2 linked regions of the Homo sapiens genome follow. The protein of the gene in region 2 interacts with the protein of the main gene of each other region in a biochemical or structural test. Each region holds a gene or a part of one and is shown on either strand. Other genes may lie near its edges. The genes, in order: FGFR2 and FGF6.

Evidence for each region.
Region 1: the proteins of FGF6 (region 2) and FGFR2 interact in a test that uses a peptide from one of them, tested with the Homo sapiens proteins (one study listed by BioGRID).

Annotation. Positions count from the first base shown.
Region 1 is NC_000010.11:121,588,174-121,591,987, forward strand, and holds part of FGFR2 (fibroblast growth factor receptor 2 isoform 1 precursor), read right to left. Parts: intron 1-3,814. UniProt on the Homo sapiens protein: Tyrosine-protein kinase that acts as a cell-surface receptor for fibroblast growth factors and plays an essential role in the regulation of cell proliferation, differentiation, migration and apoptosis, and in the regulation of embryonic development.
Region 2 is NC_000012.12:4,443,634-4,447,547, reverse strand, and holds the start of FGF6 (fibroblast growth factor 6 precursor), read left to right. Parts: upstream 1-1,732; 5' UTR 1,733-1,977; coding exon 1,978-2,323; intron 2,324-3,311; coding exon 3,312-3,415; intron 3,416-3,914. UniProt on the Homo sapiens protein: Plays an important role in the regulation of cell proliferation, cell differentiation, angiogenesis and myogenesis, and is required for normal muscle regeneration.

The sequences.
Region 1 (3,814 bases), on a different chromosome or scaffold from region 2:
AGTGGGAGCTAAATGATGAAAACTCATGAACACAAAGAAAAGAACAACAGACACTGAGGTCTACTTGAGGGTGGAGGGTGGGTGGGAGGAGAGAGAGGAGCAGAAAAAATAGCTATTGGGTACTGGGCTTAATACCTGGGTGATGAAACAATCTGTACAACGAACCCCCATGACACGAGTTTACCTACATAACAAACCTTCACATGTACCCCCAAACCTAAAATAAAAGCTAAATTTAAAAAAAAAAAGAACTTGGCCTCAAGTTCTTGACCAAACTACACTAAGAAGGCAAGTCAGGGAGGAAGATGGTGTGGTAAAGATGGGGTATGATTAGCAACACCAAGCATTTCAATGCTAGGAAAGCTAAAAAAAGTAGAGCCATCTCTAAATCTCATGGGATACAGCAAAAATCTCTAAATCATATGGGATACAGCAAAAAGATGGAAAAAAATGCAAAACTTAAGGCTAGGACAGGTGTGGTGGCTCACACTTGTAATCCCAGCACTTTGGGAGGCCAAGGCTGCCAGGAGTTGGAGACCAGCCTGAGCAACATGGCGAAACCCCATATCTACGAAATATTTTTAAAAATTATCCAGGCCTGTAGTCCCAGCTACTCAGGAGGTTGGAGGACCCCTTCAGCCCAGGAGTCCGAGGGTACAGTGAGCCACGTTTGACAATGCAGTGAGGGTACAATTGCACCATTGTACTCCAGCCTGGGTGGCAGATCAAGACTCTGTCTCAAAAAACAAAAACAAACAAAAAACCAAAGGCTAAAATCATCTCTCAAGGAAAAAAAAATAGAGACCATAAGCATTTTGCACAGTTGCATAAAACCTACTGGATCAGAATTATCTGTGGAATAGCCTAAAAAACTTCCAAAAAATAATTTCTGAACTGCCTACAGAGATGTCCCCCTGGCGAGAATCGGACCAGTACAGTGGAGAGTAGCACACCAGCTATATTTCCTACCTAGCTTAACAGCCAGGCACCCAAAAATCAATTTCCCATGTTTTCCTTTAATGACTAAAATTCGCTTCCATGGAAATGTAAGGGTAAGCTAGATTAGAGGGAGTTTTTAACAATTACCCTGGCTAAACAAACACCTAAACAACAGTCTGCAAACTGGAAGACTAGTGGATACATTTTATTGAAACTACGAACATTAAACAAAACACTTCCAGTTTAAACACGACCCCAGTTATTTCATAGCCATGTAATTATTTGTTAAGTCTGATATTAAAAACATCTCATATTGGATTGCTGTGGTTTTGTGAATTCTCACCCTCAACTGGGTCAGAAAGACTTGAAAGGAATAAAGTCTTTACTTATGGCTTGATGCGGGGCCATTGGCATAGTAAGTGCTCTGTCTTTTAACTGGTTGAAATAAACAGACAAAACAGAAACACACACATATACCCCAAATTTGAATCAGAGAGAGCCAGTATAAAATGATACAAGTACCAGTTCTCTGGGCTTGCCAGATTTCTGCTCTATAAGTAATATTAAACATGGCTCTTGGTCTATGAATTGTGAAACACTTTATATACTAATAAAGAATGTGTACTTCATTGTGTATTTAACTGCGTAAGCCTGTATTTGGTTTAATTGACCAAGAATAAGTCCTTGTTCCAAAGCTAACTATCAAGTTACAGTCAACTCTTAAATATTAACACTCATATTGAAAAACAAAGATGCAGATAATACGAAACAGAAGATTATTTTAAATCATTCACTCTTGGTATGCGGATATATTCTTTCTTCCTTTCTTTTAACTTGCAATTAAATGCGTATGGTTAATATTATGGCATTTACAATACTTCTAACAAAGGACTTAAACCATACTGGAAAAATCTGACTTAGGGAGGTCTCTGTGTAGATCCTGTCCTCGACGTTTCTGCTACTGAACTCTGGACCAACTCACGTTGGTCCAGGAGAGCATCACCTCTCAGAAGATTGACAAAAAATTGCTACACAAACTACATTTTTTTTCAGGTTGTTACTTTTCAGAGTCACACTCTGTGGAGGGTGGGAAAGTAATTAAGGGTGTAGGGTTGAAAAGCCCTTTCATTTTAGCTCCTACTGGGTTGGTGTAAACAAAGATGCCATTAATGTCAACAATGACTTAATTAACCAGAGTAGGTGACAATGTCAGGAAGAACTTGAAAGTAAGAGTTGCCCCCTCTCAGGGTAATCAAGCTTGACTAGACTTCAAATATTTATAATGTTAATCAACAGAATAGTACTTGGCATTGAGGACTGCCCCCCTTCGAGTCAATAACCATGTTTTCACTCCTCTGCTGGTGCCCTATAACAATGAATGACCAAAAGGAAATTAACAATGAATGACCAACTGGAAAACTCATATTTAATCTGAAATATTAAAAACTAAAATCTTCTAGAGATTATTTTCTTAAGTCAATTGAGTGGGCCCAACCCCACTGCTACTATTTCAGAACGTGTCCAGAAGACAAATGATATATATGATATATGATATGACATATGATATGATACGATATTGCACAAAGCCAAGATGACTAAACATAACCTTTCCCTGAGGGGCCAAAAGAAAAGGACCCTCTAGTGTTAGGGCCCAGGCTTCTTCCTGGAACTTCTCAGTCACATTTTTCTCCTATCCAATAGACATTATCTAAACTGAGCTTCCAAATAAATTAGCAAACCAAAAAGTCTTACAAGATAAGACCTTGGTGCACAGAAGGTCAAGGTGGAACTTACTGCTAACCAAAGCTATAGTAGTTCTAATCATGGAGAACTGATGGACAGGGGCACAGGCACGCACGCACGCACGCGCACTCGCGCACACACACACACACACGCACACTCTCTCTCTCTCTCTCTCTCTTCCAATTCACCAGCACAGAGCCTAAACCTGAGCCCATTTTCAGCTGTTAAAAACTCCTTTCTCATCTATAATTCAATGACCTTCCTAATCACCTCTGACACCAAAGCGAACTCCTGCAACAGAAGAACTGGTCTTAGGGCTCAAATCAGTGGCCAGTATTAGACTAACAGATGAGGGGAAGTGGGGACCCTACAGAAAGCAAACACAGCTTCCTGGAAACACCAAGGGCCTCCTCCATCCAAAAACAACTTTCTTCTCAACTGTCTCCAAAAGCCTAGATGTTTTTTGACATTGTGGCACCTGGCACAGCCAGCCCACGGGACTGGGAAGACCCATGTTCCCAGCTCCCTGGCGACAACGGCGACAAGGCCATGCACCCGGTGCTTACTGGATGCCAGCCCCTGTGCTAATTGCTCTTTATGTCCAGGTCAAATGGAAATCTCCTAACAACCTTTTGGTGGAAGAGTCAGAAGACTTCTGAGGACATTAATATTCAATGACTATTAATGAAGAGACCCTAAAGATCATCTTCTTAAGCCCTCAGACGACAGAAAGGGAAACTGAGGCCTGGGACTTGTATACTTTTCCAAAGCCTCTTCTTTGCCAGGTTTTGCACCTTCCTCTAAGACATCTTTTCTTTTCCATCTCATAATTCTGGATGCAAATGAACTCATAGCTCATGGAAACTATAAACCCATAAAAATGCACAAAAGGACATTAACAAAATATTACCTAAAATTTCCAGAACTTCATCGACCTCCTTCCTGATCCATAAGTGCATCCACAGATCCCAGGTTGAGCAGGCCTGCTTCCAACAATACCCACATTGTTGGATGTAAATTCTTACACAAAGACTCACTCGGGGAACTTCGTCCCTTTCCACGATTTCTTCCCTCTGCCTCACCTGTCCCTCCCTGCATGTATACACAATTTTAAACTTCCTTCAAGAATTAA
Region 2 (3,914 bases):
AGGAACAAGTGGTGCCTATGTCCCTCCCCATTCAGTTTACCAGCTGAGGGTAAAGACAGACATCTGGGCTTCACAGGATTTCAGAAGGCATGTCTAGGGCAACACTAAACACATGGCTTGACAGAAATTTGAACCAAAGCATCGAACCCAGTGAACGAGGCAGAAGGGCAGAGAGAAGGCAGGTAGAAGCCACAGACCAGAGGCTGGGACCCAGGGCACAGCAGAAGGTTTAGAATCAGAGGGAAGGCGGTGGTGCCTCAGTAGAGTCCTTGGGCCATGGAACTCACCCCAGGAGCTTTTCCAGGCTGCCTGCAGCCTGCAATGTGGGTGTAGAGTGTGGCTAAGGGAGCTGCCTGCTGGGACCAGCTCTACTGCTCAGGACACTCAAATCCATCTGTATGCCACTGTCATCACCCCACACATACTCTCTCCAATCCCGGCAAAATCAGTGCTAATGTCTCACCAACAGATTAAGGCCTGGATTGAAGTACAAGAAACAGGATTTTTAACTCAAGTTAATTCAATTCCCCAGCGACCCTTGTTAACTTATTCACCCTCAGAGACGTATTAATAGTTCTGTCTTATATTGTATAGAAATTTGTGCAGTGAGTTTTCTGGTAGCTTTACATTTTTTTTCTCACTTCAGTTAGACATGTAATCTATTTAAAAGTAATATGGGAATAAGATAAATCAGTGTAGGAATAACTTCCTGGCAGAAATATTTTTACTAGTTTCTGAGTGTAATATCAGCCCAGCAAAAGTTATCTGCAAATATAGAAGTTCTCATGTACATCAAAGACACTCAAGTTTTTTTTAAGAAATAAATCATTTTATGCTACTGAAATAACTCTGTGATGTGCTATTGGCATTTAAGGAGCTAAACAGACTCTATGGGCCAGCCAACTTCTACTGCAAGCATTAGACATGCACAGGCTTTAGACTCAGGCACACCTTAGAAGTTCTGGCTTTGCTACTTATTAGCTATGGTAACTCGGGCAGGTCATTTATCCTCTCTAAGCCTCAACTTCCTCATCTGTGAAATGGGAATAATATCAGTCACATGCCAGGGATAAATCCAGGGAGAATGGCCAGGGGGCTGTGTCAAAGGCCAGACACAACTTCCACCCCAGGTGAATGTCGGGACCAGGACAGTGAGCAGGCAAACCTTGCCCTTGCCCTCCTTCCCTCCACAATCTTAAAGCTCCTTGAACAACCCCCATCCCCACCCCCTGAGAATGTCTGTGCCCTCCTGCTGAAAGGGTTTGGCCTTTCAGTGTTCCCCTCCACCATGAGCTGTTTCCATGAAAAGATCTCAAGGGTGACTTGAGGCTACGGTCATCACTACCACAAGCCTTTTCCCATCCCTGCCTCTACCTATTGCCCTCTAAATAAGGAAGCCAGCGCTGCCAGGCAAAGAACTTCTGCCCAATATGGGTCCTGGGTGGCCTCTCGCCTCTCTCTTTCCCTGGGCCCCCAGCCAGCTCCCCCCTCCCCCAGAGATGCTCCCTGCTCACTTCATTCCTGCCTCATAGTTGGAATGACAGTGGCTCCCAGAACCCCTGGGGAGTGTGGAGGGTGATGGGGGTCTGGGGAGGCAGCCAGGCCCAAGAGCAGGTTAATGTTACAGCCCTGGATAAGTGAGCTGGGCGGGTTGACGTCAGGGCGATGATGGGTGGAGGGGAGGGCCGGGCTGCTGAAGCAACTATAAAGATAGGTCAAATCAAATATCATCAACTAGGGACGGAGCAAGCGGGCGAGCTAGAGAGCGTCCCCGAGCCATGGTCTCTACCGGCCGCGGCTCAGCCTGGGTCCCTCTGCTCTCAACCCGAGTGCCCGATGGAGGCTTTGGTTTCATGTCAGCAGCCTTCATCTGCCTTCCAAAAATAAGCCCCTGCCGCCATGCCGGAGGGAGAAAAACAAGAAGGGCGGTATTTTTAGGGCCATTAATTCTGACCACGTGCCTGAGAGGCAAGGTGGATGGCCCTGGGACAGAAACTGTTCATCACTATGTCCCGGGGAGCAGGACGTCTGCAGGGCACGCTGTGGGCTCTCGTCTTCCTAGGCATCCTAGTGGGCATGGTGGTGCCCTCGCCTGCAGGCACCCGTGCCAACAACACGCTGCTGGACTCGAGGGGCTGGGGCACCCTGCTGTCCAGGTCTCGCGCCGGGCTAGCTGGAGAGATTGCCGGGGTGAACTGGGAAAGTGGCTATTTGGTGGGGATCAAGCGGCAGCGGAGGCTCTACTGCAACGTGGGCATCGGCTTTCACCTCCAGGTGCTCCCCGACGGCCGGATCAGCGGGACCCACGAGGAGAACCCCTACAGTGAGTGCCAGCTGCAGCCAGTCGGGACGCTTGGGGGTTTGGGCTCATGCAGGGCTAAAAGGTGAAGGGGCCCTGCTCTAGCGGACAGGATGCACGATAAAGGGGGCAGAAATGCTGCTCACCACTTAGATGATTCCACGTGACCCTGCCTGGGTGCAAGCTCAATATACTGCGGTCCAAGCATCCTGGTGTTCTTTGCCATCGCCTTGGTTAGATCCTCAGTGGCACTAACTATTTCAGCATTACTGGCCCATCTGATGCCTTGTAAGACCATTAGGAACCATTAGTCTGGGAAGCCCCCAAGGCCTGGGTAGGGAGAATCAGTTAGTATACTTGGATCAAATTTGACACAAGCTCATTTTTATTCAGCTTCTTTCTTGGAGAAGGAAGGGAAATTCAATTGCAAAATGTCCAACTGAAGCACATCCTTCTTTTTATTTCAGCGGCTCCCTCTGTCCCCAGGTTCTTATCCTGCAAGCTGCCTGCAAGCTGCCAGCTTGCTGTATGGTTAGTCTCCTATCCAAGAAAGGATGGGGGCTGCAGGATCCAAGAAAGCCATCAGCTATGGTGTGGCTGCTGTGTTTTCAAGATTAAGTGGGTTGAGATTTGTTGAAACATGTAGAGTACACATTAAGAAGAAGAAGAAGAATCAGAATTTATTTTTTTACTCAAGTCAAGGACCTCAAGTAATTATGTCACTGAAAGCCCAGATTCAAAGCTCATCTTAAACAGATAGCTAAGTGGTCACTGCAGCCCCTAACTCTGCTATCAGAACCTTCCCTTGCAGAACTGGATTTCTAACAGCACAATGGCAGCACTCGATGAGTCCAGCAGCCAGGGTCTCCTAGAGTTAGAGGGATCATGGATGGGGCAATGGAGAGTCTGGCTTTCTAGGAGAAGGGGGATGGACTGAGATGCCCTTGTCGGCTCAAGTTCCCACTCTGATTTGCACAAGCCTTAGGTAATGTGGCCCCCCTTTCCTTGTCAGGCCTGCTGGAAATTTCCACTGTGGAGCGAGGCGTGGTGAGTCTCTTTGGAGTGAGAAGTGCCCTCTTCGTTGCCATGAACAGTAAAGGAAGATTGTACGCAACGGTGAGTTCACCAGGCCGGGGAAGTGCCAGGTTTACAAGGCTTGATGCTTACACAGTTGAAGAAAATAATATGAAGTCCTGAGTAGAGAAGTGACTATCTAAATGGGAAAGGAAAGGCTGTGAGAGGAGCCTGTGAAAGGGAGGGGCCTTGCAGCTTGTGCTTCTTCAGCCTCACGGGTGATTGTCCTCTGCCCTGGCCCGTGCTTCTTCTGTTCCCACCTGCCGGCCGGAGCCCGTGTGCTTAAACGGAAACCACAGCTCAGGGAGCCCGTGGGCCAGAGGGAAACCCACATTCTGGCATCCAGGCTTGTGAGCAGGTGTGATTCCCTGCACTGGCGAGGCCCCGAGAGCAAGTCTGTCTCTCTGCCTGGGTGCGCTGCTCCATGACACGCGCCCTGCAAGATGCCCCAGCCTCGTGCGCAGCAGGAGGAGTGGAATGGGAGGCTATTTTCATCCTCATCAGTGTGCTGAGATTCTGCACTAGGGTTTTCAATCCTCTG